3 separate regions of the Homo sapiens genome follow, and regions 2 and 3 are each linked to region 1. The links come from fine-mapping of genetic effects on gene expression. A gene starts in region 1. Each other region holds a variant in brackets. All regions are shown on one strand. Distances are from middle to middle. Region 1 holds the start of SHC3 (SHC adaptor protein 3). Region 2 overlaps SHC3 (SHC adaptor protein 3). Region 3 overlaps SHC3 (SHC adaptor protein 3).

What was found. PIP is the estimated chance that this variant, and not a neighbour inherited with it, causes the effect.
Region 2: its variant is fine-mapped to the expression of SHC3 in fibroblasts (GTEx, PIP 0.94).
Region 3: its variant is fine-mapped to the expression of SHC3 in fibroblasts (GTEx, PIP 0.98).

What each region holds. Positions count from the first base shown.
Region 1 is chr9:89,173,579-89,184,170 of GRCh38, reverse strand. It overlaps SHC3 (SHC adaptor protein 3), which reads left to right and starts at 5,353. Exons shown (of 12, transcript NM_016848.6): 1 at 5,353-6,184. The coding sequence starts at 5,711. RefSeq lists an enhancer at 10,491-10,592.
Region 2 is chr9:89,148,438-89,159,029 of GRCh38, reverse strand. The region is part of intron 1 of SHC3 (SHC adaptor protein 3); the gene reads left to right. Among named protein-coding and RNA genes, the nearest start is that of SHC3, 25 kb to the left of the region's middle. The variant C/T (reference allele first, on the strand shown) is at 4,186.
Region 3 is chr9:89,133,341-89,143,932 of GRCh38, reverse strand. The region is part of intron 1 of SHC3 (SHC adaptor protein 3); the gene reads left to right. Among named protein-coding and RNA genes, the nearest start is that of SHC3, 40 kb to the left of the region's middle. The variant C/G (reference allele first, on the strand shown) is at 5,048.

The DNA.
Region 1 (10,592 bases):
AAGCAGGCACATCTACATGGTAGGGGCAGGATGAAGAGAGAGCAAAGGGGGAGGTGCTGCATACTTTTAAACAAGCAAATCTTGTGAGAATCCTATTATGAGACAGCACTGGGGGACAGCTAAACCATTAGAAACTGCCCCCATGATCCAGTCACCTCCCATTAGGCCCCACCTCCAACACTGGGGATTACAATTCAACCTGAGATTTGGGCAGGGACACAAATCCAAACCATATCACTCACCCAGTGTGGCTCTGGCACATTTTGTAACTCCTCTGATTCTTGGTTTCTTTTCATTCAAAACAGGCTGTAAACCATCTATCTATATCTCTCTATAGCAGGCATGCATTGGTGCCTAGGGACACTCAGTCAAGGTGGTTATGACTGTCATCATTACATTTGTTAACTATCACTGGTTTTTCTCTTGAAACTCTCCTCCATGACATTCATCAAACCAGGTTTCCATATTTATTCTCCAAATTATGACCGTTTTTTTTTCTTAGCTCCCATCTGGGAAGTCTGGCATTTGCAAGTTTCCACTTCCAGCCCTGACTGCTCTTCGGCTCTGGCCATCTCTACATGGAAGATCCCCACCCCTCACACACATTCAAGCCCAGCCCTTGCCTTTCCCCATGACCTGCCTGTCATGGGGATGCTCCTCATCCTCATGGCTAACATTCAGCTCAACCCAATGGTCCAAGTTAGAAACGTGGGCTTTGCTTGGCATTCCTTTCTTTGGGAGAGGCTGGGCTGCAGGGTGCCATGGGCACACAGCCTTCACATCAACTTTTTCTGGGGGTGCTCAGCTGTGGGGTGCCACCTGCTGGAGGCTGTTCCTCCCTGGGCAGCCCACACTAAAGAGGTGAATGTGGGAGAGAGTGAGGGAGTGCGTGAGAGTGAATGAGGAGCCCTGCAGGCCAGGGGATACTCTCTGTGGATGGCACTCTTTCTCCAGAACTCTTGGAAGGACGAGGTGTGTGGGGCCTGGGTCACAGCCCACTTCTGCCTCTGCTCCCTCCTGCAGCCTCCCCTGCTTTCTGTGGAGCTTGATCTCTAATAAGCATCTTGCATTCCAAACTCTGTCTTAGCTTCTAGCTGCAGACAGCCTACCCAGCCTCGCTCTCTCTTACACTTCCTCATCACAGAGACAGATCCTTTACCTTCCCAGCTATCTTGAATCCATCCCTCTCTTTCCAGCTCCACTGCTCTTGCTTTCATTCAAGCCCTTGTTCTTTTTAACTTGTCCTGTTGTCTCCTACCTCCTCTCAACTTCCCAGAGCCACCCCAAGTCACTATCAAAGTGGTCTCCATAAAAGGCAAACCTGACTATGTGACCCTCTCTCAAGCCCCTTGTGTCCATTTGTTCTTGCATTGCTAAGAAGGAATGCCAGAGGGTAATTTATAAAGAAAAGAGGTTTAATTGGCTCATGGTTCTGCAGACTGTACAGGAAGTATGGTGTTGGCATCTGCTTGGCTTCTGGTGAGGGCCTTAATTGTGGCAGGAGGTGAAGGCGGAGCAGGAGTGTCACATGGCATGAGCAGAAGCAATAAAGAGAGTGAGAGGGGAGGCGCCACATTTATTTTATTTTATTTTATTTTATTTTATTTTATTTTATTTTATTTTATTTTATTTTATTTTATTTTATTTTTATTGTTTTTGAGACAAAGTCTTGCTCTTTTCGCCCAGTCTGGAATGCGATGGTGCGATCTCGGCTCACTGCAAACTCCTCGTCCCGGGTTCAAGCGATTCTCCTGCCTCAGCCCCCCGAGTAGCTGTGATTACAGGGGCCTGCCACCATGCCCGGCTAGTTTTGGTATTTTTAGTAGAGATGGGGTTTCACCTGTTGGCCAGGCTGGTCTCGAACTCCCGACCTCAGGTGATCCATCACCTCGGCCTCCCAAAGTGCTGGGATTACAGGCATGAGCCACCACACCAGGCCGCCATATTCTTTTATCCAAGCAAATCTCATGTAAGCTCAGAGCAAGAACTCACTTATCACCAAGGGAATGGTGCTAAGCTATTCATGAGGGATCCACCCCCATGATTCAGTCACCTCCCACCAGGCCCCACCTCCAACACTGAGGGTCACATTTCAACATGAGATTTGGAGGGGACACACATCCAAACCTCATCACCCCTCTAAGCCTTTATGAGTGCCCAGCCTCCTGACCTCCTCACCAACCCAACCAACCTACCAGGGATTCTGGGAGACTCTGGACTGCTCAGGCCTGGAGCCCTTGCCCACACAGTTTCCTCCTGTGAAGTCACCTGGAGGATGCCTCCACTGGGGTCAGGGGTCACCTCCGCATCCTCAGGACAAGCTCACTCCTTTGGTCAAGTTTTTGTATCTCACACATATTACAAAATTCACATAGTCTTAACTAGGTTATAACATTAATTTCAGATCTTCTGCCTTCCAGAAGGCAAAACCACTTTCCCCAGGGCCCAGCTCATGGCACCTTCTCAGAAATTTGTGGATTCTCCCTCAGAGCCTCCAGAGGAACCAGCTCGGCCCACACCCATGCTGGATCCCAGCATGACCCATTTGGACTTCTTACCTACAAACTGGAAGATAATAAATTGTGTTATTCTAAGCCATTGATTTTGTGGTCATTTGTTACGGCAGCCATAGAAAGCAAATACGTGTTTAAGCATTGATTTAAAAAAGAAAAACCACAACATACTGGAAAGGCTCTCATTGTAAATTGCCCCAGACTGCCTGGCTTTGGTGAATCTCAAGGCTGACTTTAAAATGGAGTTTTTTTTTCCTGCTTCCTTCCATGGCTATCAAGCAAGCCAGCAACAGAAAATTTCATTTACATTTAGCATTTTCTGTCCCAGTGGTCTCCTCTCTCATCTGTCTCTATGTTGATCAAGAAGATATGTGGGCTTTCTGGTACAGGGTCTAAAATAAACATGAACAGCTCCCCAGAAAGGGCAAAGGGTTTTCTCATGAGTAGGGTGTGTGAGCTTCTGTGTGGGCTGCACAGCCTCCTTTTGATGCTGAGAGGCCTTCGGGTTTTTCTTTTTCCATCTTTCTGCTACGTTCCAAAATGTTGATACTATTTTCCAGGTAAGTGAGGTTTTACCGTACTACTGTGTTCTTGGAATATTAATTTCTGTCTTTGATTATATATCTTTTCATATATAGTAAATTTATGTTGCTATTTATATTTTAAAATGACCAATTTCCCTCCACTGGCCTCATAATAAAAGAAATAAAAGTCTCCTGTTGGCTAAACGTTAAGTACATAGCTTTGGATTTTTTTTCCTCCCTGGAGCCTCAGAACGTGTACAGGTGTCCTACATGCCTTTTACAAAAAAAGAATCAAGGGCTAGGAACCTAGGTTTTGAACGTGCATTCAATGTACATTCATAATAAAAGCTGAACGACTGGCACATTCATGGTTGCTCCTTGATGTAAATGAACGGCTGAATGAAAGTTTAGGGGCACAGCTCACCTCCAAGAGAGACCCTCTTCACACTTAGACCTGACCAAGGGATCTTGAATTCCCTTGTAAAACTAGCTTTTCCTCTCCATAGCAGCTGGCCTCTTCCTCCCGGTATCTTTGTAATCCGGCTGGGTGTTTTTTTTTCTTTTTCTTTTTTTTTTTCCCACACTGCCGTTGGATAAAAGATCCCGCCTTTGATTGAAATGGAATCTTCCACTATTGAGCAAGCCTTTGTTGAATGAGTCATCGGGGCGGCCGCTCATTGGCTGAGGCCGCTGGAGCCCAGGGGATTGCCTGGCACCGGCTGCAAGGCCCTGCTTCATTCACAGAAACGCTGGCTCGCTCGCTAGCCTTTTCATTCACACAAACAGCATTTCATTCACATTTTGCGGTTTTTGTCTGCATCTAATGAAGATCTCGCTTTGGGAATGATAGGGCTGTTTCGCTACAGATCTGGGGAGGACTCTGATAACCATCAAAATCATCTATGGGGTGTGCAATTGCTGTTGCTATGCAAGCTAGGGAAAGGGAACAAATGAGTGCCGTGTAGCTGTTCTGCTAGGGCTGCGGCACAGGAGGCGAGCCGTGGGGACGCGTTTCCTGTACCGGGGACGCCGCGGCTCCTCTGCGCTCTTGCGTCCTAGGGGTTGGCCTCACCCGCTCGCCCGCCATGAGTGGCGCTCATTAAACTCTGCTCCATAGAGCAGGGTTCAAGACTCAGGACCTCACGTGCCCCACATGTTCGGTCATGGGAGTGAGAGGACTCAGGGTGACCTGAGAGTGTGCTAGAGCTGAATTTATTCGCTTGCTCAGAAGTTGCGGGAAAACTTTGATAGTGAGTGTTTCACTGTGGAGCAGGTGATCCTAATGCATGAGGAAGCCTGGCAGAGCCCACTGAGGTCAAGAGTCAGAGGGCTTCAGTCTCGGGCAGACCTCTGGGGACAGCGAAAGCCTTGCTCTCCTAACTGAGAGGAAGAAGGCCTGTGCATTTTACTTGCAAGCCCGAGCCTGACTCCTGAAAAGAAGGCATATTTTCCTCCTTGTGGATTTGATGTGCAATAAGAACAGCTGCATTTTTTCCTTCCTGACTGCAGGGTTGCAAGCAGCAACTGAAGGAACATTGAAATGTATTTGTAGCATTTCTTAGGCGTTTTTCCAGAGCTTAAACACATTCAGTAGGATTAAAGCTTCAAATGCAGCCCCTTTTTTGGAATGGATTTCTGGAGCCTGTTGCCACTCGTGAAAGAAGCACTCTTCTTTTTTGGAAGTGGATATTCAACTTAACCCTGGCTGAGAAAGACTGCTGTAAATGAGCAGGGAAGACCCCTTGATTGGCACTGTGCAGAAGTTCATATGCAGATTTTTTTTTTTTTTTTTTTTTGAGGAACTGCATTGCCACAAAGACACTTGTCATCGCTGCTCTGTTAATTTGAAAAGAAAAAGCAAAACCCAGGAAATTGGTATTTTACAGTCACCTGGGGGTGAATATCCTTTTTGTTTTTTTCTATTTAAAAATTCCTGCTGCCTTCCAAGTCAAGATTCATCAGGATTCGCTGAAGATCTGATTCTTAAAAAGCCTTCGTCACATTTTAACGCATCGCTGTTAGACACTTTTACAGGCTCACACAGATGGGCTGAGCAGGGACGAGCAAAACCTAACAGAATAATGGGTTTCAGAAAGTTCATTTGACGATTTGAAGGAACTGGATTGGATTTACCTTTGGCACAAATGCAGATTGCGGGGGATGGGAAGGTGAAAAATCAAAGGTTGGAAGGAAATATCTGGGAAGGTAGAAAAAGGAAATTTGAGAATTGATTGGCTATAGTGTGCTGTCAGCGGGTGGATGTCGTTTTTTTCTTCTTTTTTTCCTTTTTTTTCTTCTGCTACAGGAAGTGATTTGCAGTGCTCACCGAGCCTTTGTTGAGAAGGGTCTCCTCTCAGAGTGAGTCATGCTTTTGCTGTGAGCAGCCCCAAGCAGCTGGGCGCTCCATCAGAGGCAACTATGACTTTTGCAAAGCAAACGTGCAACCCCAAGCAGCGGTCTCCCGGGCCGGGGCTGCGCGGCCGCCGCTGTGCTGGCTTTTAACGGTGGGAGGGCACCATCCTCTTGCTCTGCTCTCGTTCTCCAGAAGGCTGTCCCGGGGCCCCCACTCTCCGTCCCGCTCCGGGGACAGTGGCTCGCCTGCTATGCGCGGCAGCCCGCGCCGGGGCCGGCACCAGCAGCGCCCGGGCGGATGCAGCGAGCCCACGGAGGGGCATGCTTCCACGCACCAAGTATAACCGCTTCAGGAATGACTCGGTGACATCGGTCGATGACCTTCTCCACAGCCTGTCGGTGAGCGGCGGCGGAGGCAAGGTTTCGGCGGCGCGCGCGACCCCGGCGGCGGCTCCCTACTTGGTGTCCGGCGAGGCGCTGCGCAAGGCGCCCGACGATGGGCCCGGCAGCCTGGGCCACCTGCTCCACAAGGTGTCCCACCTGAAACTCTCCAGCTCGGGCCTCCGCGGCCTGTCGTCGGCCGCCCGGGAGCGGGCGGGCGCGCGGCTCTCGGGCAGCTGCAGCGCGCCCAGCCTGGCCGCCCCGGACGGCAGTGCGCCCTCGGCGCCCCGCGCCCCGGCCATGAGCGCCGCCAGGAAGGGCCGGCCCGGCGACGAGCCGCTGCCCAGGCCCCCTCGGGGGGCGCCGCACGCCAGCGACCAGGTGCTGGGGCCCGGAGTCACCTACGTGGTCAAGGTGGGTGCGGGCGCGGGCCGCCCTGGGGGCTGGGGGTTCTGGGGCCAGTTCGGGGCAGACTCCTTCATTCCCTGAAGCCCGGGGTGCGGGGCGCTCCCGCGACTGTCACGTTAGAGGCAAGCAAATGCGCACTCCTTAGCAATCAGCTCGCTTGACAGCGGTGAGGAGGGAACTACAAATGCGCTTTTCCCGCATCCATTGGGAAAAGGTTTACCACTCGGGTGGCCCGCTCCGTCCCGGTTTTCCCTAGGCTCCACTTTTTTGGCACGCCTTTGCCACCTGGCTTACCAGATGTCTGACCAGTGTCATGGGCGCCCAACCCTGGGCAGCGGGGGTCCGGCCTGCCTAGTATCTAGGAAACGCGCTGGGGAGAGCTGGGCAGCCCCCGGGAGGAGAGATGCACGGAGTGGCGGCCCTACTCCTGCTGTGTCTTCCCCGGCGGGAGGGTGGGTATCTTGTTGCCCCCCGCAGCAAGAATTCCCAGCTCCTTGCAGAGCAGGCCAAATGCTGTGCTGCTTTCTCTTCGACGGGCTTTACTTTCTCACCCAGTCCAGGTTTTCTTGGGGTTTGTCTTTCATTCCCTAAGGAAAGGTTCTGGTTTACAGCAGCGGAATGAGAATTCTGGGACTATTTTTCTGGTGACTGTAGTCTTCCATTTAAATGTGCTAAAAGGGAACTAGGGCGCTGCGCTTGGAGCCACAGGCTGGAAAGGAGTTTTTTCCTCCAACACAAAGATGATAAAATCACGATGTAGTCAATAAAATTCCACCCTTATGCAAGCATGTTATGATATTTAAGGAAAAATGCTCAGCACAGTTCAAGTAATCTGCCACGCGGTTATTTCCTTCTGCCGGTTGGGCAGCTCAGAGCTTTAACAGCCTCCACAGCCGAGCAGACAGGGGTTAAGGATGGAAGTTGCAGTATTTCAATCCTGCCACTCCAAGGCATGGCTTTGTATTGAGAAAGAAATGAGACACAAACTCTATCCCCACCGTGTCCTCAATAACACTGAGAAACCCCCAGGATGTCTGTTCCGTAAATATTGGCTGCAGATTCCAGTGTAAAAATTAAATAGAACACATCCTCAGGTAAAATGCAGTGTCTGGTAATTTCGGAACCAAAATATTAACAGAAATACTTAACTTTGTGGATTGCCTTTAACTATATAAAAAGTACTTACAGATGAATGTGGCCATTGTTGTTAAAAGAGGGCTTCTTCACCTTTTCAGTCTGCTTTTTAATTTAACCTTCAAACTATGGATTATTATATTTTACCAAAGGGGTATAGATGAGCATAATATATGCATATTTGGTTGAGTTTATTTTAAGAGGTACTGAATATTCTTCTTGTTTTGCTTATTTAAATTATATAACCAGGGGCCAAAACAAAAAGAAAAAAACAAACCAAACCAAAAATCCCTGACAGCTTTGAGGTTGTGTTTACTTCTGGGGTGTTAGCATAATTGCTGTTTTAAAAAGCCTACATTTCAAATAGACAAATAGACCTTGGCAAAGCTTTTTCTACCTGTCATATTAAACAGAGTAGTTTTCAAATTGAGGGAGAATTCTCAAACTTATGGCTTTAAATTTTTGTTTTAATCACTTTGCTTAGAACTTTGCTTTTGCTTTTTAAAGAAGGAAGGCCAGCATCAAGTTTGAAAGGTCAAATGTGGCAAAATAATGATGAATGTACGAAAATAAGACGGCTCTGCGTCGACAATCTGTTGCTGTAAGGTTTGTGACTTACTGGCAGCATCAGCAGTAGTATTCATAGTCAAAGGGCTGGATCTGCACAGAGCTTGTCTGTGTCTTGGGGTTACTTTGTGTTGCCTCAAATTTAAGGGGTTGCAGTGATGGGTTGAGGGGTGCATGGCATGACTAATTAGGGCTCTGTACCATCCATGTTTTGGTTCCTTGTTCATTAGCAGCCATGAATGGTGCTGTGATGTGAACATAAACGCAGGCATTGTCCTCTGCTGTCCTGGAGAAGTTTGAAATCACGCAGAAAGAAAACCAGATGCTAAAGTGTGTGTGCATGTTTGATTCAAATTATCACATGGCCCTCTGTTGGCGCACATGTGCAAATTCCCGCATTGCCCATGTTGAGTTTAAAACCTCGAACTTATTTTATTGAAAAATTGTTAAACTGAAAACAATCTTAATTTGGCGTTATTTAGAATTTTTGAATAGTTCTACCGGTATCCTTACTTTAAAAGATTTCTGGTAGATAGAAATGGGCCATCTTTATCATATGACTAGATACCAATAGTAAAATATAAAGGTTTAGGGTTTGGGAAAGGATGCATTATTCTCTTTGATATAATTTTTTTCTAAATTAAAAATAAAGCCCCCAAATGTTTTCTAGTTTCCTGGAAAATTTATATACTGTATTATAGATTTTCCCCCTCAAAGAAATACCTACTTACAGGTGATATTAGGATATTGCACATATGAATTATAATTCAAAAATATTTCAACTTAATCTGAGAACAGGGACTGTAAAATACAGAAGTCTGGTGAATTTTGATCATCTAGGAAACATTAAACTATTTGAGCAACAGCTTAGAATGTGAATTAATGAAGGACTTAAAATTTAAACATGGAAGAAGTTCCTGAGCAACAGTAGAATTCAAAGCTCAAAGCATGTCTAATTGGTCCATCATTGAGTTTGCTGCTAAATAACAGAATGGGGCTATGCACACAGAAAGGCTGCAGCTTACTCTGCCTAGAGGTTTATATTCTTTTCAGCTGGGCCTCATTGGCAGCACCTTTTTACTCCCCTAAGTATCTTGACATTTCCTTTTTTCTTTTGGTGACGTAAAAGAAAGAACAAGGAACTATGCTCTTGATAGAAAAGAAAAATCCAACAGCAAAGAACAATGACTATTTTCATTAAATTTCCATTTTAAAAGTATTTGATATTTGGACCTAAAAGAAATACCAATGAGTATTGATTACGGTGCTGCCCACCTTTAAATTATCTTATCCTAAAGTCAAGCCTGGGTAGGACCCCAATCACTCAAGGAGGCTGCTGGTCTTTAGCAGGTTCAAAAGGCAATATCCTGGTCCTCCACCTTCTCTGTCCTCAGATCCACGGTGGGGAAACTGTAGGAAGGAATATGAACAGTGCAGGGGACAGGAGGCAGGGGTTCAGTTTTTAAAGAGCCAGTGGGCCATCTGAAGACAAGCACAGCCTTGACATTCAGCTCTGAAACTGCCTGCTGGAGGGGCGAGGCTGGAGCAGGAAGCAATGCTGTGTGGGCTGCACCGGGTTTGCCTTTGGCCCCAGCGTGGTCCCCAAAAGACGGGCTCCTTCTTAGAGCACATCACAGCACAGACTTCAAAAGGATAAGAAGTGACCATATTTAGAAATGACCCAAGTGCCAAGGGCAAGAATCAGGAGGCCCAATGTAAAAGCAATGGTTTTAGGTGCCCACTGCTCAGAGCTATTCCAACAGCGTCAGCATTCAGTGAGCCAGCAGATTACGCCATTCATAAACACCTGTGAAGGCTCCAGCGAAGTTACATAGGTTTCAGCTTGTGGAGTGTTGTATATTTACTGACAGTGAAAATGGCGAGCTATTTATAGGAGATTTAACGATCAGAAAAGTACTGCATTATTTCCTGATACACTGGACCCTTCCTGATATGCTTCCCTTTTGGAACAAAGCTCTGTTTTTACAAGGACTCTTTAAAAATTATTTTATTACTCCCATTTGTGCATCTAATGATATTTGGGGTGGTATAAATCATTTGCTTTATTTGTAAATGCTCTACTGCCTTTTATAGGTGGTCTTCGTAAATTACATTTACTCAAAAATTTATTCTTAATTTTTTTCACTTGACAAAGTGTATAAAAATATCTTAAATTTTCATTTTCTCAGAGCTGTATTCTTTTGGTAACTGTGAGCAAAGATCATACAAAAGTTATTTTAACTATATTAAAATAACTATATCAATTCTACTATAATATTGTAGAATTTTATTTTACCTCTAGACTGAAAAATTGATTTTGATGTGGAGTTGAACTTTAAAAAGTTGATTTTTTTCTCAAAATTCTTTCGAAATCTTATGATATGGATGGCTTACACGTAAATATCTAAATGGTTTGAAAAATAGTTTAAGAATTTCTTTTGACATTAATATATAAAGTTATTAATTTGATCTGGATAGTGAGTTGTCTCTTTTTATGTGACACAAACATAGATGTGTTAAAGGCACACACACACCACACACATATACACAAACCACACACACACCTCACATATACACACACATATGCACATACACACCATGCACCCACACACAACCATACAGACACTGCACACACACAACACACACACCCCACAGCCCACAGGTAGATGACTTGTGATGACTTTGGATGGGGGCTGTTTTCTTTCTTGTTAGA
Region 2 (10,592 bases), 25 kb after region 1:
TGCACACTTCTACCCCCTACTATATGCTATGGTCCACTTGACTACTATGAGTTTCCAACTATCAGCCTCTGTCATCAAAATTCAGGCTTGTAATTGAGAAAGCCGGTGGAATTTTCACTGAGGATTATTTTGCCCACCCAACAAAGCAAATGTCACACTACAGAGTGGTAGGGTAAATTCTGGTACATTTACACTATGGAATAGTACTATGTAGCCATTTCTAAAAGTGAACTAGAGTCCTATTACAGTTGATTTGAAAAGATTTTTACAAGGAATTGTTGAGTGAAAACAGCGTGGTGAAACAAAGCATGTGTATGAACCCATCCTTGTAACAGAAGCAATCACAAGAAAGCATGTATATATCCACAATTATAGTTGGAGACTTCAACAGCCCGCTAGACAGAATAATCTAGTAATTGATACCACTAGCCATTGATGGAACTACTAGACAGAAAATCGCAAGGATGGACAAAAGCTGAACAAAATAATCAACCAACAGGATCTAACGGACATACATAGAGCCTTCCACAAAATCACAGCAGAGTAAACATTCTTTTCAAGTGTTCATGAAACATTCACCAAGATATACCATGTTTTAGGTCATAAAACAAATCTAACCAAATTTAAAAGAATTAAAGTCATACAGAGCATGGTCTCTGATCACAATGAAATTCAATTTAAAATGGAACTAAATTAATAATTGATAATAGAAAAACAATAAGAAAATCTCCAAACTTTGAAATTAAACAACATGGCTGCAAATACTTAATGAGACAAAGGAGAAGCTTCAAAGGAAATACAAAAAATACATAGAATTGAATGAAAATGAAGCCACAACATGTCAAAATATATGGGACATAGCAACAGTGCAAAGAGGAAAATTTATAGCACCAAATGCTTACCTTAGAAAACAGAAAAGTTCTTCAATCAGTAATCCAGCTGTCTACCTCAAGAAACTAAAAAAAAGGGTTAAAGCAAGCAGAAGGAAGGCAATAACAAAGATAAAAGCAGAAATCAATAAAATTAAATATAGGAAATCAATTGAAAAAATCAATGAACGCACAATCAGATTTTTTGAAAAAAATTGATAAAATTGATACACCAGCCTGGGCATGGTGGCTCACACCTATACATATCCTATGCACTTTGGTAGGCGAAGGTGGGAGGGTCACTTGAGGCTCAGAGTTTGAAGCCAGCCTGGGCAACATAGCCAGATCCTATTTCTGCAAAAAAAATTTTTTTTAAATTAGCCTGGCGTGGTGGCAGGATGCCTGTAGTCCCAGGTACTCAGGAGGCTGAGGCAGGAGGAGCACTTGAACTTGGGAGTTGGGGGTTGCAGTGAGCTATGATTGCACCACTGCACTCTATCCTGGGCAACAGAGAGAGATCCTGAATAAAAAAAAAATTGTTAAACTTAGGAAGATTGACAAAAATTAAAAAAACATTTTGGCAATATATTAGTTTCTTGTTGCCAATCTAACAAATGACCACAAATTTAGTGACTTAAAACAACAGAAATTTATCTTACAATTCTGGAGGTCGGAAGTCTGCCCTGAGACTTACAGGACCACAGTCAGGGTATCTGCAGGGCTCATTTGTTCTGGAGGCTTCCGGGGAGAGTCTGCATCTTGTCTCTGGAAGCTTCTAAGGCTTCTAGCTGTGAGAACGCTTTGGCCTGTGGCCACATTAATCTCTGCTTCCATTATCACTTTGTCTTTTTCTCACCTGTGGTCAGATTTTCCTTTGCTTATCTCTTATAACGACCCTGTGGTTATATGTATGGGCCACCCGATAATCCAGAATGATCTTTCTATCTCAGGATGTTACTGAACTGAACTGGGGTCCACTCACCCAGTGCAGTAGGGCCAAATATTTATTGAGGTTTGTAGTGGGAGAAAGGAGGGTGTTAGCGGGAGGGTATTTAAGTGTAACCCTTACTTGTAGGGTGCCAAGTAAGGAGAATTGGGTTGCTTACGCTTGACACCCGACCTCCCAGATGGCTTAAACGTAAGGGTTTATGGAGGCAGGGAGGCATAAGTTATAGGCAAGGTCATAAATCAACACAGGGAGGCTATACATTGGTTTGACTTAAAAAGACAGGACATCTCCAAGCAGAGGCCCACAGGTCATAGGTGGATTCCAGGATTTTCTGATTTGTGATTGATTAAGGAGTCAAAGCTTTGTCTAAGAATGTGTGATCGGCAGAAAAGAAGGTGAGCTCTGGTTCATAGGCATGACCTTCTCCAGGCCCCTCAGGAAGAAATTTAGAACAAAGAATAGCAATCAGAGTTGAGTCCTCAGCCTCTCCTTACCTGAGATCTGTGTGCCAGTGGCTCCATTTGGTGGGGTCTAGGTTTCTGGAAAACAACTCAGGGACATATTTTAAGATGTTGTCTTTGGTTTTTACAGGGAACCAAACATCTTGTGACTTTAGTTTGTTTGGCTATTAAGTTTTTTTTTGTTGTTGTGGTTTATTAAGTTTTTATTTACTTTTTTAGGACTAGTTAAGTGACTGGAAGTTTTTTGAATGCACCGAAGATTAAAAAAATTATGTCTTTGGGGGCCCACAGGCTCCTAAGAGGGGTTCCTGCTCTGTTTTAAGGATCCTTAACTTAATCATATCTATGATGTTTCAGTTCAGTTTCAGTTCAGGGTCTTCCCTGAAGTTATTAGATGTCAACTGGGACTGTAATCGTCCGAAGGTTTGACTGGGGCTGGAGGGTCCACTTCAGGATGGTGAACTCCTATGACTGGCAGGTGGTATCTGGCTATATGCAGGAGGGCTCAGTTCCTTTCCACATGGCCCGCTCCATATTTTTCCCATAGGGATTCTTGAGTGTCCATATGACATTGTGGATGGCTTCCCCCAGAGTATGCAGCAATCAAGGCAGTAATAGATTTTATGACCTAGCCTTGGGAAGCACACACTGTCACCTTCACAGTATTTTATTGGTCACATGGGTCAGCCCCATTCAATGGGGGAGGGCACTCTATAAGGGCACAAATGCCAGGAGGCCTCAGAAACATAAATATTTTTGCTATGGGTATAGATTCATGGGTTTTAGGCTGGAAGAAACCACAAAAATACCCTGGTTGACAGTAAGAATCAGTCCCATTGATGATAAAAGATGGAATTTAAAAGCTTAATAGGGACAATTTTCTTCTGCAAAGAGGTAGATGGGGTGGCATGAATTTCTTGTGTTAGAGACAGTTTTAACAGATGAACCCTCAGGTGCCAAGTCAGTTAACCAGAGCTGGGTTGACAATCAGGGATTTAGGAGGGAAAAACCCAAGGCAAGGAAAGTCCTTGTGAATGTGACCAGGTGGAGAAACAGGTAGATGACGATTTGCCAACTCCATGTTCAGGGGCTGAGCTGAGGCCAGAGTCGGCAGCTGGTATTTCTTCTCCAATGGGCTACTTAGGGTGGCTTTTTGGGCTCAGTGGCACTCCAGAACAAGTCTAGCATATTGGCTGGTGGTAGCAGGACCTTACTGACATTCCATATGGAATGGAGCTGGAAGCAGTCCTGTGAGGTCTGGGTGACACTCGCACATCCTGTAAGGATGGAGAAGCAATGGACTAGGGAGCTGAGACCCCCAAGACCATCATTCTTGCCCAGGCTTCAGAGACAACTGAACTTCTTCTTGGTCATTCACACCAGACTGGAGATGGCTGAGTGGTTGTTCCGTAAGAGCAAGGAGAGAGAAGCCGGCTCCGGGAATTAAGGGCGTGTGGCATCGGGTAGAATGCAAGCCAAGCATTCAGAAATGGTCCAGTCCAGTGAAATGGAGGCTTGTATTGAGTCTGGGGCCCAAGGCTGAGAGAAGGCTGGCTCCGTCGAACCAGAAACAGCACTGAGAACCTGGCTGGTGGCACCGGCTTCAGCTGCACAGAGAGGGGGTCAGCAGGCCACACAGGGTCATCCTGACCAGCAGTCTTTTTTGTGGGGTGTCGTGAAGAAAAGCAATGCTCAAGGGTAGATAACGAATTTTCTAAGACTGAGCAGCCAGCTTAGTGGCAGAGTGAAAATGAGAATAGAAGTGGAAGTACACTGGAATGAAGATGGCTGCTTAGTTTTATCTGCCTCACCCACTAGCTAGAACGTGGCTTTAGCCATAATACCAATATGTATTTTTGGAACATTCCTTTGCTCTTTTCCTTTGACTTTGGATAGCAGATGTGGT[C/T]TATTGCATTGCTGTGATTTTCAGATGAAATCAAGCACAGTGGTTTACTTTTAACCAAACCCCAGTCATACTTCCTCTCTCTGACTCAGCTTCCTTGTCGTACGTAAGATTGATGACACACGCCACCAGCTCACATTTACAAAGGCGTTCTAGGTCTTTTGATGAACACCTATATGGCATTTATATTAATATAATTTTCTCTGTGAGAGGAGAGATTTAAATGAGAGTTGTCTTAGTAGCTGAGGAAACAGATACATGATTAGGGGAATAGCTAATTTCTTGCCTGATGTAATGTATGGAAACTGAGAAAAGCCTGGAAAAGGAGGTTGGAAAACTGAAAGTGGGTGGGCACCACTTTTCACACCCAACCCTCTTTCCATGCCCAAAACACCGTGGGGCATCCCCTCCTCACAGGGCCTGTGTGCTGGGCTGCACTGACATGCATTCCGGCTCAGAGTTGGCTTCACCCTTAACAGCGGGTACTGGGACTCTGTGGACACATGGACAACTTTACTTAACTCTAAATCGGGGTGTCCAGTGTTTTGGCTTCCCTGGGCCACATTGGAAGAAGAAAAATTGTCTTGGACCACACATAAAATACATTAACACTAATGATAGCTGATGAGCTAAAAAAAAAAAGAAAAATCACACACAAAAAAATCTCATAATGTTTTAAGAAACAGAACGGCTTCCAACCAGTTAGTAACCTCCCAGGGGTAACCACTATTCCAAGCCATCCTGGGCCACATATAGCCCATGGCCAAGGGTTGGACTAGCTTGTTTAAGCCCTCCACTTCTCTTGGATGATGCCTGTCATATGGAGGTGCACCTGCACCTCAAGTTCTTTATCTGTAAAATGGGTGTAACGGCAGCACTCTGTTTATAAGGTCGTCAGGAGGAACGAAGGGAATGTCTGTGAAAGGCTCTGCGGAGTGCCTGGCAGGTGGCAGAGGCTCACTGAAGGTCCGCAGTCTGAGCCATCCCCAGTCCTACTGTTAAACCCAGAGCTCACTTCTCCAAAGCCCCATGAGTCAGGGCCAACCTCGCCTTTAGTCATATTTCCTTTATTCAAGAGAGAGTACTGTGATATCACATGATAGTGACTCCAGCCGTGTGTCAGCTCAGCCTTTTAGCTCAAGTGAAATTTGTTCTGCTGAAGGTGATGTCGTGGCACCGTTCTTGCCACCCTTGAGGTGGACAGGAGGTTGAGACTTGCTGGGGTGAAAGCTGGAGTGACTGAGGGGCCTCCCTGGCCCAAATGAGGGTTCTCAGCTTTACAGCTTTGGGAAATCACTTTTGGGGCCACAGCAGTAACAGCATGAGCCAATCACAAAAGGCAAAGGACAAAGTGATAACCAGGGAGGAGTTTTGAAATGCTCTGAGTGAGAGCAGCGTGGATGAAACGCTGTGAGTGAGAGCAGCATGGATGTTGGGGTAGGTGATGTTTGTGGTGTTAGTGCTGAAGTAGGCGATGTTCATAAAAAGCTCCCAGCGGCCGCTGCCTTATAAGTAGGGCATCAGACAACATTCTCATAATACCAAGTTATTCTGGGGGGATTGCCTATGAATGATTTTAACTTTTTGATGCTTGTTTGTATTTTCCAAAATTTTCTGCAATGAACATACATTATTTACTAGGAAAAGGTGAGTGTTAGAAAGAAAATAATTTCAAGGACCCCTTAAAATAAATGATTTTTTAATTCTTTTTTACTGAGCACAACATACATAGTAAACCACAAAACCTTAAATAATCAGCTCAACGAGCACATATTTATACACACATCACACCAGTGCAAACATCAACAGACTAAGATCTAAAGCAAATTTCCAGTCCCACCCCCTGAGTTCTTTTGTATTTGATACCTCCCAGGGGTATCCACTCTTCTGACTTCTGTCACCATTGATTAGTTTACGGCAATTATCTTTTAAATTAAACAATACTAATAATATTTGGTCAAATTAGCACTATTAAGTATAGCCCATTTTTTCTAAGTATGGATTGTATCTTTTAAATCAATTCAAGGTATTATTTAGAAGAGAGTTCATAAATATATAACTTTGATGGTGCAGAATCCTGTATAAAGTACATTAGACAAATTAATTTATGAAAAGTAGAGTTTCCCTTTGCTCAAATACATATAAATGCTTGTAATAAATCATCTTAATTTTAACATTACTGAATCAAGTCATTTTGGAACTTCACATTATTCCAATGCCAATATCAGACGGATGTGCCATGTTATATAAGCTGGAGAGTGGGCAGTGGTTGACTTTAAAGAATTGTGAGAAGGTGCGATTGCACACAGGCATCTAGAACATGTGTGGTGGACTTGCTAAGACAGTTGGACATAGATATTGAGGATGTCTATGGTGGACCCACTAAGACTGCCAAGCCACAACTAACTTGAGCAATTCTGAAGGATTTTGAAAACGTAAATATTCTGGAGCAGAATTTTGCTTGAATTTCAAATGGTCCTGTAAATTGATTTCATTTGACCTCTATTTTTTACAGTGCATGGTAATTGATCTATGCCCAGGCCAACTGGCCACCACTGGGAGAGGAAGAACAACCCATAGGATTCGGCTTAAAGAGATGCCCAATTCACAGGACTGTGGATTCTCCCGTTTTTAACAAGTGACAATTCACTAAGTCAGAGTTAAGACTTAGGAGCTTGATTGCAGTGTTAGTTTACATCCCATATCTTTAACTCTAATTTTCCAGAGAGCAATATGTAACATATGGCCACTTCCCCTGACATAATCTGAAGCTACTCAAATCACTAGGGGCTGGCTCCGCTAACAATATAATCCTAGAAAGAGAATCATCAAACATTATTGCAAATCCAGAAGTCTGGGCACAACCTTACTGAATCTGAATACTTTTAGTACTGAATCTGAATACTTTTAGTTAATAATATTTAGCTTTCTTTTATTAGGGCAATACATGCTAATTGCAGAAAAAGAAGGACATAAAGAAAAACATAAAGAAGAAAATTAAAATCACCTATAATCATAATCCTCCATGATGATGTCTTAAAATGTCCATGAATTATTTTAGCCCTTATTTTTATTTATGCAAATGTGAGATCAGGCTCAATGATTCCCCAAATTGTTAAATATTATTGGCAGACATAATTTTTAATAGCTGCATAATATTCTATCCTGGAATATGTAAAGAATACTTACAACTCAACAATAAAAAGAAAAATAACAGAATTTAAAAACAGCCCCAAATTTGTCTTAGTCTGTTCCTGCTGCTATAACAAAAATACCTTAAACTGGGTAATTTACAAACAACAGAGGCCTGAAGTCCAAGATCAAAACACCAGCAAATTCAATGTCTAATGAGGGCTTTCTGCTTCATGAATGGCTCCTTCTCATGTCATTCACACATGGCAGAAGGGACAAGTGCTCCCTTCAACCTCTTTTATGAGGCCACTAATCCCATTAATGAGGACAGAGCCCTCATGACTTTATCAGTTACCAAAAGGCCCAACCTCTTTATATTATCACATTCAGCAGCAGGTCTCAATGTATGAATTTTGGGGGGACACTAACATTCAGACCTTATGAGGATTTGAATAGACATTTCTTCAGAAAAGACATACACCAGCCTGGGCAACATAGTGAGACCTCATGTCTACAAAACATTTTAAAAAATAGCCAGGCACCGTGTCACATGCCTGTAGTCCCAGATACTCAGGAGGCTGAGGTGGGAGGATTACTTGGTCCCAAGAGGTTGAGGCTGCAGTGAGCAGTGACCACAGCACTGCACTCCAGCCTGGGAAACAGAATAAGACCATGTATCAAAAAAGAAAAAAAAAAAAAGACATGCAGATGGCCAATAATCACATGAAAAGATGCTCAACATCTTTACTCATTAGGGAAATGTGAATCAAAACCATAATGAAATGCCACTTTATACCCTTTAGGGTATAACAAAAAAAGCTATAATTAAAAAAATGGACAATAACAATTATTGGTGGAATTGAGAAATCAAAACCCAGCTTAAAATACACAGCTGGTGGGAACATAATATAGTACAGCTGCTTTGGAAAACATTTTGGCAGCTCCTCAAGTTAAATACAGAATTACCATAAGACCCAGCAATTCCACTCACAGGTATATACCCAAGAGAACTGACAATGTATATTTACACAAAAACTTGTACACAAATGTTCATAGCAGCTTTATTTACAATAGCCCCCAAATAGAAACAACCCAAATGCCCATCAATTGCTGAATAGATGAACAGAAGGTGGTATATACATACAACGGAATAGTATTCAGCCATAAAAAGGAGTGAAGTACTGACCATGCTACAACATGGTGAATCTTGAAAACATTATGCTAAGCAAAGGAGCCAGACACAAAACGGCACATATTGTACTATTCCATTTACATGGACTGTACAGATTTGGCAAACCTATAGAGACAGAAAGTAGATTAGTGATTACCAGGGACTGAGTGTGGGAGAGGATGGGGAGTGGTTGTTAAGGGGTATGGGTTTTTTTTTGGGATTATGAAAAAAGACTATAGAATTAAATGGTGATGGTTGTACAGCATTGTGAATACAATAATCTCCTCTTATCCCTGGTGGCAATGTTCCAAGACCCCCAGTGGGTATCTGTGATCATGGATAATACTGAACCCCATACGTGCTATGATTTTTCCTATACATACATACCTTTGATAAAGTTTAATTTATAAATTATTCACAGTAAGGGATTAACGACAATAACTAATAATACATCAGAACAATTATGATGACAAGTCAGCATCACTACTCTTGCACTTTAGGGCCATTATTCAGTAAAATAAGGGTTCCTTGAACACCAGCACTGCAGTACCATGACAGTCAGCCTGATAACTGGGATTGTTACTAAGTGACTAAGGGATGGGTAGTATAGGCAGCCTGGAGATGCTGGGCAAAGGGATGATTCACACTGCGGGTGGAGCAACTGGGGCTTCATCATGCTGATCAGAAGAGTGTGCAACGGAAGACTTATTAATTGTTTATTTCTGTAATTTTCCATTAATATTTTTGGACCCCAGTTGATTGTGGGGAACTGAAACCACAGAAAGTGAAACTACAAATAAGGGGGATCTACTGTATACTCAAAATCACTGAATTGTACACTCTTAAAAGGTGAATATTTATGGCATGTGAATTATACCTCAATATAAAATACTTGTAAAAAGTACAGCTATATTAAATAAAATGAACCAGAGGTATGTGGGAATTTGACTTCATTAGAGTTCTAGGATCTAAAGGTAGGTAGCAGTTATCCAGATGAAGAGGGGAGGAAAAAAGACTTTAGACGACAGGATCCTAGTGTGAAAAGGTCTTAGGAAGAGGGGTGCAGAGAGATTGATCATGCCTCTTCTTCATGCATTTTTGATTATTTCCCTAGATTAAGTGAAAAGGATGGGACATTAAAATTTAAATAAAATGTAATTTCTGAAGCATTTTATAATGCTTTATTTTACAATGAAGTTCATTGTAAAAATTATAATATTCAGAGAAGTAACAAAATGAAAAGAAGCCACCTTGTAGTCACATCCTGCAGAGCTGGCAGAGGGAGGAGAAGGAGCCCTAGTGCACTATGAGTGGATGTGTAAATTGGTGCAAATTTTAGGAAAAGCGAATTGAAAATCCTTACCACACCAGTGTGCGGTGGAGACTAGTCATTGTTTAGAATGCAGCATGTCTAACTTGCTTTGATTATGCACACAGCGATGCCACTTGTCCAAAATCCATGCCCTCTCATGTAATTCTCACCATATTCCATTCTTCAGGCGAGTAAACAGAGACTCCACAAGCTCAAGTAATTTGCTGAATGTTCACACATAACATTCCATGAAGTGGGCCTTTAACTGAGGGCTGTATGACTCCAACTTCTATTCTTTTCTTACTAAAAAGCAGAACGCAGAAATACATGCAAGTTTTATAGGGCTTTGTCATATGCCAGCCCAGGGAAAGTGACGTATGCCTTTCATAAATCTGTAGTCTCAGGCTTTTTAAAGAACAAAAGATAGAGTGAAATTTGGAGTCAGTGACTTTTTCTTCTTCTATGTGAGTGCTTGGCACATAGAAACAGTTAATCAATGTTGAATGGTGTAATTGTGGTAAATTCAGCTTAAAAGTGTACTACCAGGTAATATTTACACTTAGAGATTAGGTCATTAACTTATAGAATATCCATTCATCTTATATAACCTGTGATTCAGTTTGGAAAATGTCAACTTATTGATCTATTAGGAAATACATCTGAGCCCCAGTTGAAAGTTACCTGTATCCTTTTCAGCGTATTGCTCTAGACAGGAAACAATGGGTACCCAGGTAAACTGAGAGAAAAAGTTGAAATTTATAGCAATGGTGCTATATAGTCTTCTTTTCTCCCCCA
Region 3 (10,592 bases), 40 kb after region 1:
TGATGGAGTCCAGACATATATCAGTGGCTTAAAGGTTTAGTGGTACTTCCCTCTCGCCTGAAAATGAGGGATATATGTTTTGAGTATGACCTTACAGTTTACAAAGCACACTGACACACTAACCCCGAAAAAGGCCAGTCTGCCCCTTGGGTCCCTGGAGGTTCCAAGCAACAGGCAATAGCAAGATCAATTTCAGAGCGGCAGCATTCATTCAGCCCTAAAAGCCATCTCTGACCAACCAGTTCTCCTGTGACTCAGGAACACAAAAAAAATTTCTGTTATACTTGGACCCCCATCCCTCTGTCTCTAACTTTTCAGATTCTGTGGAAGCTTCTGCAATTCTGCCTACAATGATGCGTTTCCCAACTCCCTTCACCTTCTGAAACTCCTGGGTGGAAGTGTCAGAGGCATTTGAACCAGAGCAACTCCATCTTGAATATGGGCTGGATAAAATGAGGCTGAAACCTGCTGGGCTGGATTCCCAGATGGTTAGGCATTCTAAGTCACAGGATGAGATAGGAGGTCGGCACGAGATAAAGGTCATAAAGACTTTGCTGATAAAACAGGTTGCAGTCAAGAAGGTGGCTAATTCCCACCAAAACCAAGATGGCAATGAGAGTGACCGCTGGTCGTCCTCACTGCTACACTCCCACCAGTGCCATGACAGTTTACAAATGCCATGGCAACATCAGGGAGTTACCTTATGTGGTCTAAACAGGGGAGGCATTAATAATCCACCCCTTGTTTAGCATATCATCAAGAAATAACCATAAAAATGGGCAACCAGCACCCTTTGGGGCTGCTCTGTCTACGGAGTAGCCATTCTCTTATTACTTTACTTTCTTAACAAACTTGCTTTCACTTTTGCCTATGGACTCACCTCAAATTCTTTCTTGTGCGAGATCCGAGATCCAATATCCCTCTCTTGAGTCTGGATCAGGACCCATTTCTGGTAACATCTTTCTGGTGACCATGGAAGGGACAATACTGAGGAAGCCCCCAACCCAAAGGCTAATTTGGGGTAAGTGGTGGGGTCCGGTAACATCTTTCTGGTGAACTCCAAAGGTATGATACTGAGGAGACCCTCGACCCGAAGGAAAATTATCTGTACACACACCAATTGGCTGACTTTGGGCAAGTGGTGTGCATATATGTGAGTAAAGGATGGGATTGGGTTAGAGGCCAACTTAGGGGAGTTAGAATCTCTCCTAAGACAGAGTGGGTAAAAGACACCCCCCGCCTTTTTTTTTTTTTTTTTTGACAGAGTCTCACTCTGTCGCCCAGGCTGGAGTGCAGTCGTGCGATCTCACTGCAACCTCCTCCTCCTGGGTTCAAGTGATTCTCCTGCCTCAGCCCTGAGTAGCTGGGATTACAGGCACCCACCACCACACCTGGCTAATTTGTGTATTTTTAATAGAGATGGGATTTCACCATGTTGGCCAGGCTGGTTTTGAACTTCTGGACCTCAAGTGATCCACCTGCCTTGTGGGATTACAGGCACCCACCACCACACCTGGCTAATTTTTGTATCTTTAATAGAGATGGGGTTTCACCATGTTGGCCAGGCTGGTTTTGAACTCCTGGACCTCAAGTGATCCACCTGCCTTGGCCTCCCAAAGTGCTGTTATTACAAGTGCAAGCCATCGCACCCAGCCTTAAAGGCCCCTCTTAATAAAAGGCAAGGAAACTCGACTGAACTTGGGTTCAAGGCCCAACTTAAGAAGGTTAGAGTCATTCCTAAGATTTAGGGGGTTGGAGGAGCCATTTAGTAAAGTCCTTCTGGGCTAAGAATGGATTTGGCACCATGGGATGTTAATTCCTATTCTTTTTTAATTAATCTGCCTTACATTCTTTGCTGATGGCTGTGGGCGACAGAATTAGGCATGTACAGGATGAAGGGACATGGGGAGCTTTTTTCTCCCTAAAGGGGAAACATGAGAGCTGATGGAACTGCTGGAAAAGATCCCTCCTATGACCGACAAATGGCCACCTGAACTTTTCAGTGTTGCTGCAATAGATGGGTCTTTCTCTGGCCTCCCTGACCTCTTCGCCTCCCCCACCCTGCTGCAGACAACGCATTTCTCTCTCTCTTTTTCCTTTCCTATATTTTTTATTATTCAGGGTGATCATCTTGCCCTGTGACCGCAAGTTGAAACTGCTGGTCAGAGGTTGGATTAATGATGACAGGGCCCAATCAGGAGCAAGTTTGAGCCATAGTAGTTTGACATTGGGTGCTAAGCAGGGCAGCTAGTGTCTGCTTTGTCACATGTATTTTTCTCCGGCCAGAACAGAAAAAGACAATTTTCCTTTATAATGTGGCTTGGCCCCCAGGGCTGTGGTGCAGCCCACAGGTCACTAGGGCTGTTCACTAGGGAAAGGGAACCCAGAAGCCTGGCATGCTGGCAAAAGGGTAAAAATTTCTTACCAGTCAGACTTCTGGCCTCTCTCTCTGTGCAAACCAGTTGAATGAATGGTAAAAATCACTGTTTATCTCCTTCATAAAGTTTTGATTAATGGAAAAAAGATTTGTGAGGCTACTCTTAAGCTGTGGTGAATCTGGCATGATTTGTGTGTCTTTCTGTATTGTTCTGTCATAAAGAAGGGTACCGTAGGATAGAACACAGCCCTGGGACTCCACAAGCTCGCTGTTCAAGACAGCCCAGCAAACTGGTCAGTTATGTCCTTGGGAGCTTGACCTTGTAAATACGTGGCAGTACTTTCTCTTGGTCTCTGCCATTACAATGGCATCCCAACTTCAGGGTCAATTCCCTGCTTAGGGAATGAGTTCTTTCTTGTTTGATATCTGCATGACCATTACCATTTGTTATTCTCTTCTCCTCCAAAAACTGTCCTGTATTTTCCTTTCACTGAGCCAGAAATATTGGCTGTTTGGCCTGGCTAAAGTCTGGTAATAAGAAATTTACCATGACTTTTTAAAAGAGCGCTATGGTTAAAAATCAGCTTAATTAATTTAAAATATGGATATCTAAACTATATATATTTAAAAGGGCTTTATCTTTTTCCCCTTCTTGAATCTTGTTCTTTCTGAAAAAAGTTTTTCTCCTCAGTCGACTGAACTGTTTTTCTTCATTTTGTCTTTTTGCCACTGTTAATGCCGACATAAGAGAACCTGAGATAATTACTAACAGCCTAGAACTCCTGGAGAAAAACAGAGGAAGTGCCACGGACCCTGTTTTGGGAAAATTCTCTTTTTTTTCCTCATGAAACCCCAGGAATTAAAAGCAGTTAGTTTCCTCTCAAAATCTAAGGCTTTGTTCTGTTTTGCATTGCCGTATCTGATGTTTTTGACTTTTGCAGGTATCAGAAATTGTTTTGCATTATGAGAGAATTTGGTGTGTAATAACTAGGTAGGAAATATACTTTTGGAGATGGCTAATGGCAGTTATTGGGAAATACTCAGCTGTGCATGCTTGGATAAGAAACACATGCTCTTGGCCACCTAGGAAGTATGGAGATGCGCCCCCCCACCCACCACCACCGCCACTGAGAGATAAGACTTCCATGGGGAGGGGCTGATTCCTTCTTTTTGGGATCCAAGATCTGGTATAAAAGCAGGACCCTTAATCTGGGGGGGGGAATCTGTTTGCCTTCCAGCTGTCCCTGCTTATTAGCCCTAGAAAATGCATGCTTTCCTGGCTCTGGGCTCCACCCTGAAGCCAGTAATCCAATTAAGAAACTGGTAAATGAAAAATCTTACAACTACTGGGTCTTCTTCTGTCATGTATTTATGTGTGTTGTGTGTTTGTGATATAAAAAAGAAGCTTTCATTGGTTTAAAAACAATGACTGCTTAAATCAAGCATTTTGTCAGAAAAGTAAAAAGTCTAATGGCTTTTAGTTCATGTGACTTTAGTACTCTTCAAGAAATGACAGTTTTAAAAATTATTGGTAAAATTAAAATGTCTTCAAAATTTAAACATTTGGTCTAAATTACTCAGGTCAGATATTAGGCTTGCTAAATGCTTTAAGGTAATAAACTGTTTCTTTAAGTTTTGAAAATTGTTCAATTTACCTACTTTAGAGCATTAGATTCTAAATAAGGCCTAGGGACATATGGAGAGCCATGCTCCCTAGCTAGGCTCAAGAGTCAGCCTTTATCAGCCCTTTTGCAATAGGACAGAATTGGAGAAACTGGTAATTTTACCAACGCTTTGACTGTAATGGTGTTCTTTCCTTTAAGGAATCAAACTTGATTTGTAAAGCTAATAAAAGCCCCTTGAAGAAACTGGCCTCATGCCTAGTCTACAGCAGTCTCTGTACAGAATTCCTGACCTGTGTGATAAGTAAAGAATGGCACTTATCTTAGGCCCAGGAGCCCCAAGTTATCTTGGGATTTCAAAAGGAAAGGAATTGACACAACTCATAGGTATTTGAGGGTACAAACCTATGGCAGGGCTCAGCTTTATAAAAGTCTTATCTGAGATTCCTTCTATGGAACAGAGTTTCACAAAAGCCAATTTAAAAACAGCTTATGTGAAAAATAATTATTCTTACTGCACTTTATACAAATAATCAGGCCAAGTGTAATAAAGCAAAACAGTCTTACCATGATTTGTCCTTAGTAACAATGGTAAACTGGATAGAGAAAGATTATGTTTCAAGAACTATGGTACACTTGTTATTAGATTCTAGTCTCATTGGTTGTTTTTGAGTTTTTTCTTCAACTTAGGCTGATCTGGCTCATTCCTGTGAACCAACCAGCAATCTCTGACTGCTGCTCAGAAGAAATAAGAGGGATGGGTAATGTAAAAAACATCTGGATAAAATCAATATTCTAATTCTGGGTGCATTAGAATCAGCTAACAATCCCATATCAGCCTGGTTCCAACAGTTTCCCAATTCATGGAAAGACTTCTAGTTTAGTTTACTTGAAATAATTGTACTTATTTTGCTTTACTGCTGTGGAATGTATTACTGTTGTACTCTTCGTGTAGGAATGCAGGATAAGCTTACTCAATGTTTTCTTAAATTGAATACTTATTAATCTTCCAGATACCACCTTTTCTCAGAACTCAAGAGTCATGAAT[C/G]ACCCTTACTATACTGATGCCTCCTGACAGAGCTCCTTTCTATGCCTAATATAAGAGACCCTAATAGGCAGGAATATCATCACCTCTAATCATCCTGAAGAAGTTACAGAAGATGGATCTTTATCCCTCCGCAACCCTTAGGATTAAGGGTTCTCTTAGAAAAGGGAGAGGGGAAATGTCAGAGACATTTGAACCAGAGCAACTCCATCTTGAATAGGGGCTGGATAAAATGAGGCTGAAACCTGCTAGGCTGGATTCCCAGACGGTTAGGCATTCTAAGTCACAGGATGAGACAGGAGTTTGGCACAAGACACAGGTCATAAAGACCTTGCTGATAAAACAGATTGCAGTCAAGAAGCTGGTTAAATCCCACCAAAACCAAGATGGCAATGAGAGTGACCTCTGGTTGTCCTCACTATTACACTCCCACCAGCTCCATGACAGTTCACGAATGCCATGGCAATGTCAGGAAGTTACCCTATATGGTCTTAAAAGGGGAGGCATGAATAAACCACCCCTTATTTAGCATATAATTGAGAAATAGCTATAAAAATGGGCAACCAGCAGCCCTTGGGCCTGGTCTGCCTATGGAGTAGCCATTCTCTTATTCCTTTACTTTCTTAATAAATTTGCTTTCACGTAGTTCTATGGACTTGCCTCAAATTCTTTCTTGTGCAGATTCAAGAACCCTCTCTTAGGGTCTGGATTGGGAGCTCTCTCCACCAGTAGGACAGATCTGCTGTCACCCTTGCCCTCAGATGCATGTTCTTTGTCCCCCAAGTCTCTGTAGCTGGCAGCTCACGGCTTCCCAGGGCAAGGCGAGAAGCATCAGAGTCTACAAAGGGTGACATCTATGACTAATCTTTCCCAACTCTGGTTTGGCTTCCTGCCCTTTCAGTGCGTTTGCAGCCTGCACAGACTCATAGTTGCAGAGGAAAGTCTTTGTGAAGACTCTGTTACAAAATAATGGCTTTGTCTTTGTACTATGGGCTGTTATCGTTCTTTTCTTATGGATTGAAGGAGCAACGTGTTTCATTTATTTTCCTCTTGCTCCTGATGAATTGAGTTTGCTTTTGGGGTCTTTGTAAGTTGCAGCTCTTCTGATGACTCTGATTTCTTGCCTACACACTCTCATTATTTCTTTGAATTCTTTAGCAAGCTAGCTCAGTTTATTCTATCACTGACATTCTCATTTCTGTTACAGGAACTCTGTCTCCACCCCTAGACGTTTTTGCTTTTAATATTTCTCATTCAGAAAGCTAATTTTATTCTGTGCCCTTGAGTTATTATTTTTAATAATAGTGCAGTTTGCTAATATTCCTGTTTCCCAATAAAAAAGTTTCAGAAACTTGATTGGAATTTTTTTATCATGAACTTGAGTTTTCACAAAGTCTGTCTGCCACAATTGTACCATCAATTTCTTAAGATTTGGGATTTTTTGGATGTCCTAATTGGAAGTTGTGTATCTAAGGCTTATTGCAGTTAACTGGAGGTGCCAAAAACCATAATGTGTTGAGATCCTCAAAGTAATCTTGAGTTTGAGAAATAAAACACACTGAAACTTAAGCCATTTTTAGCTAAGTGTGAACTGTTGCTGAGCCCTTAGCCATGTGTATAAAGATGCTCCTGAGAATCTGGACTAAAGTGGAAAAACAATGGTATCTCCATGACATGGTTTAGCTTTGTGTCCCCCCACTAAATTTCATGTTGAATTGTAATCCCGATTTTGGGGGAGGGACCGGGTGCAAGGTGATTGGATCCTGGAGGTGGATTTTCCCTTTGCTGTTCTCATGATAGTGAGTATGTTCTCACAAGATCTGGTTGTTTAAAGGTATATCCACCTCCCCCTTCACTCTCTCTCCATCCTGCTCCAAGCATGTAAGATGTGCCTGCTTCCCCTGTACCCTTCTACCATGATTATAAGTTTCCTGAGGCCTCCCCAACTATGCTTCCTGTACAACCCGTGAAACTGTGAGTCAATTAAACCTTCTTTCTTCATAAATCACCCAGCCTCAGGTAGTTCTTTATAGCAGTGCAGAATGGTCTAATACACTCCAGCCATATTGTTACCTGAAAGTGGTCCCAATCCAGACCCCAAGAGAGTATTCTTGGATCTCGCACAAGAAAGAATTCGAGGCAAATCCATAGAGTAAAATGAAAGTAAGTTTATTAAGAAAGTGAAAGAATAAAAGAATGGCTACTCCGTAGGCAGAGCAGCGCCAACGGCTGCTGGTTGCCCATTTCTATGGTTATTTATTGATAATATGCTAAACAAGGCATAGATTATTCATGAGCTTTCTGGGAAAGGGGTGGACAATTCCAGGAACTGAGCATTCCTTCCCTTTTTATATAGGGTAACTTCCTGACATTTCCTGGCATTTGTAAACTGTCATGGTGCTGGTGGGAATGTAGCAGTGAGGAGGATCAGAAGTCACTCTCATCGCCATCTCTGTTTTGGTGGGTTTTAGCCAGCTTCTCTGCTATAAGCTGTTTTATCAGCAAGGTCTTTATGACCTGTATTTTGTGCTGACCTCCTATCATACCCTGTGACTTAGAATGCCTTAACTTCCTGGGAATACAGCCCAGTAGGTCTCAGCCTCATTTTTTCCAGCCCCTATTCAAGATGAAGTTGATCTGGTTCAAATGCCTCTGACATGTTTCTCCTCTCCTTTTTCTAAGAGAACCCTTAATCCTAAGGGTTGAAGAGGGACAAAGATCCATCTTTTGTAATTTCTTCAGGCTGAATAGGGGTAATGATATTCCTGCCTAACTACTGGGGCTCCTCAGGGTAGAGAGGAGCTCAGTCAGAAAGCATCAGTTTGGTGAGGGTCATTCATGACTCTTGAGCTCTGACAAAATGTGATATCTGGAAGATTAATAAGTGTTCAATTTAAGAGAATATTGCGTAAGCTTATCCTGCATTCCTACACAAGGAGTACGACAGCAATATATTCCACAACAGTAAAGCAAAATAAGCAAAATTATGCCAAGTAAACTAAATAAGAAGGCTTTCTATGAACTGGAAAATTGTTGAAACCAAGCTGATATGGGGTTGCTAGCTGATTCCAGTATATGCTGAGAATTAGAATATTGATCCAGATTGTTTCTACATTACTCATCCATCTCAATTCTTCTGAGCTGCAGCCAGAGATCACTGATTGATTCACAGGAATAAACAGAGTCAGTCTAAATCGCAGAAAAAAAACCCTCAAAAACAACTGATGAAACCAGAATTTTATAACAGGTGTACCATAGTACTTGAAACATAATTTTTTCTCTCTCTCTATTATCCCACTTTTACTCAAGACAAATCATAACAGACTGATTTGTTTGCAAAAATAAGCCTTAGTCTTATACTTGACCAGATTATTTGTATAAGGTGCATCAAAAATAATTTTTTTTAAATATGCTTTTTAAATTGGCTTTGATGGAATTCCTTTTCTATAAAAGGAATCTTAGATAAGACTTTTTTTTAAAGCCAAACCCAGCCATGGGTTTGTACCCTCAAATACCTGAGTTAAATAAATGCTTCTTCTTTTGAGGTCTGAAGAAAACTTGGGGCTTCTCAGCCTGTCAGAAAGTGACATTCTTTACTTACCACAGGTCAGGAACCCTGCACAGGGACTGCTGTAGAAAAGGTATGAGGCCAGTTTTCCCAAGGGGCTTTTGTTGGCTCTACAAGTCAAGTTTGATTTCGTAGAGGAAAGCACACCGTTTGAGTCAAAGCCTTGGTAAAATAACCAGTTTCTCTAATTGTTTCCTGTTACAAAAGAAAACATGATTGTTGTACTTATGCAAATATTTATATTGCCATAAATTAAGATTACTCAAAAATAATTTCTAAATTCTGGAGAAATCACATAAAGAGAAACAAATATGCTCTGAATTTTGTTTACAGGAGTATACTTTACTCAATTGCTAAAGGCTGTAAATACCTCAAAAGAAAAGTTTCCTTAACTCTGGAAAACAAAACAAAAGATCAGCTACATTTTAAGCAAAAGTCAGAAAGATTACTTCAGTCTTCTATTAGTTCAGCCCATGCAGTTAATTTCTGTTCTGCTTGATATTAATAAACATTTCAGCTCTCCATGAGAGCCCTTAAAGATTTTTCCTCTATTCTAATGTTACAATCTCCAAAGTTATCAGAAACCTGCATTCGTTAGTACCTGTCAAATTCTATAGCTGATTATAAACCACCTTTTGAAGAGGATCAAAACAAGAAAACAATTGTCTGTGGATGGCAAAGAGTCTTAGGACAGCCACTATTAAAGTCACAATTGACAAGGAAATTTTGGTTACATCTATGGCACACAATAATTTAACATAACAACTATAATTATTAGACAAATCTATTCAATCTTAATCAGTTCAACTGTAAGGCAAGATTCTTATAAACCCTTTATAATCCCTTAACAATTTTCAGTAAAGAGCAGATCAGTGCTCTGAGAAAATCCTGTTGTGCTTTTATTTTAGTGTTCAACTATTATTCAGAAAAACTGAATAATACCCCCTTTAACTCTAGATAATATGTTCACACAAAGAATCTTTTTAACAATTAATTTTTTAATAAACTTTCCACAACTTGTTCAAACCTTTAATATTTTTCTATCTCACTTTAAAAGAATCCTTTTACCCTTTAAACACAGGCAAGAAATCCACATTCCCAGGCCTTCTTATAATCTTTTACCAAAAGTATATTCTACTTTCCTTACACTCCTTGCATATTGTAGAACTGTTTCTTTAGTAGTCTCAAACACATATTGCACTGTTAACTTTTAGCAACTTTTACTTTTGGTGAAAAACCTGGTTCATAAGTGATTATAATTATGTGCCAGGTGTGGAGCCTAGGACACCAGACAGAAGTGCTGTAAGAGCTGACTCTTTCCAGCATGGCTAAGGGGCATGGCACTTCACATGTCCCCAGGCCTCATCTAGAATCTAATGCTTCAAAGTAGATATTCTGAACAATTTTTTTATTATACTTTAAGTTCTAGGGTACATGTGCATAACATGCAGGTTTGTTACATATGTATACATGTGCCATGTTGGTGTGCTGCACCCATTAACTCATCATTTACATTAGGTTTATCTCCTAATGCTGTCCCTCCCAGCTCCCCCCACCCCATGACAGGCCCCAGTGTGTGATGTTCCCTACCCTGTGTCCAAGTGTTCTCATTGTTCAATTTCCACCTATGAGTGAGAACATGCAGTATTTGGTTTTCTGTCCTTGCGATAGTTTGCTCAGAATGATGGTTTCCAGCTTCATCCATGTCCCTACAAAGGACATGAACTCATCCTTTTTTATGGCTGCATAGTATTCCATGATGTATATGTGCCACCTTTTCTTAATCCAGTCTATCCTTGGTGGACATTTGGTTTGGTTCCAAGTCTTTGCTATTGTGAATAGTGCCACAGTGAACATACGTGTGCATATGTCTTTATAGCAGCATGATTTATAATCCTTTGGGTATATACCTAGTAATGGAATCACTGGGTCAAATGGTATTTCTAGTTCTAGATCCTTGAGGAATCGCCACAGTGTCTT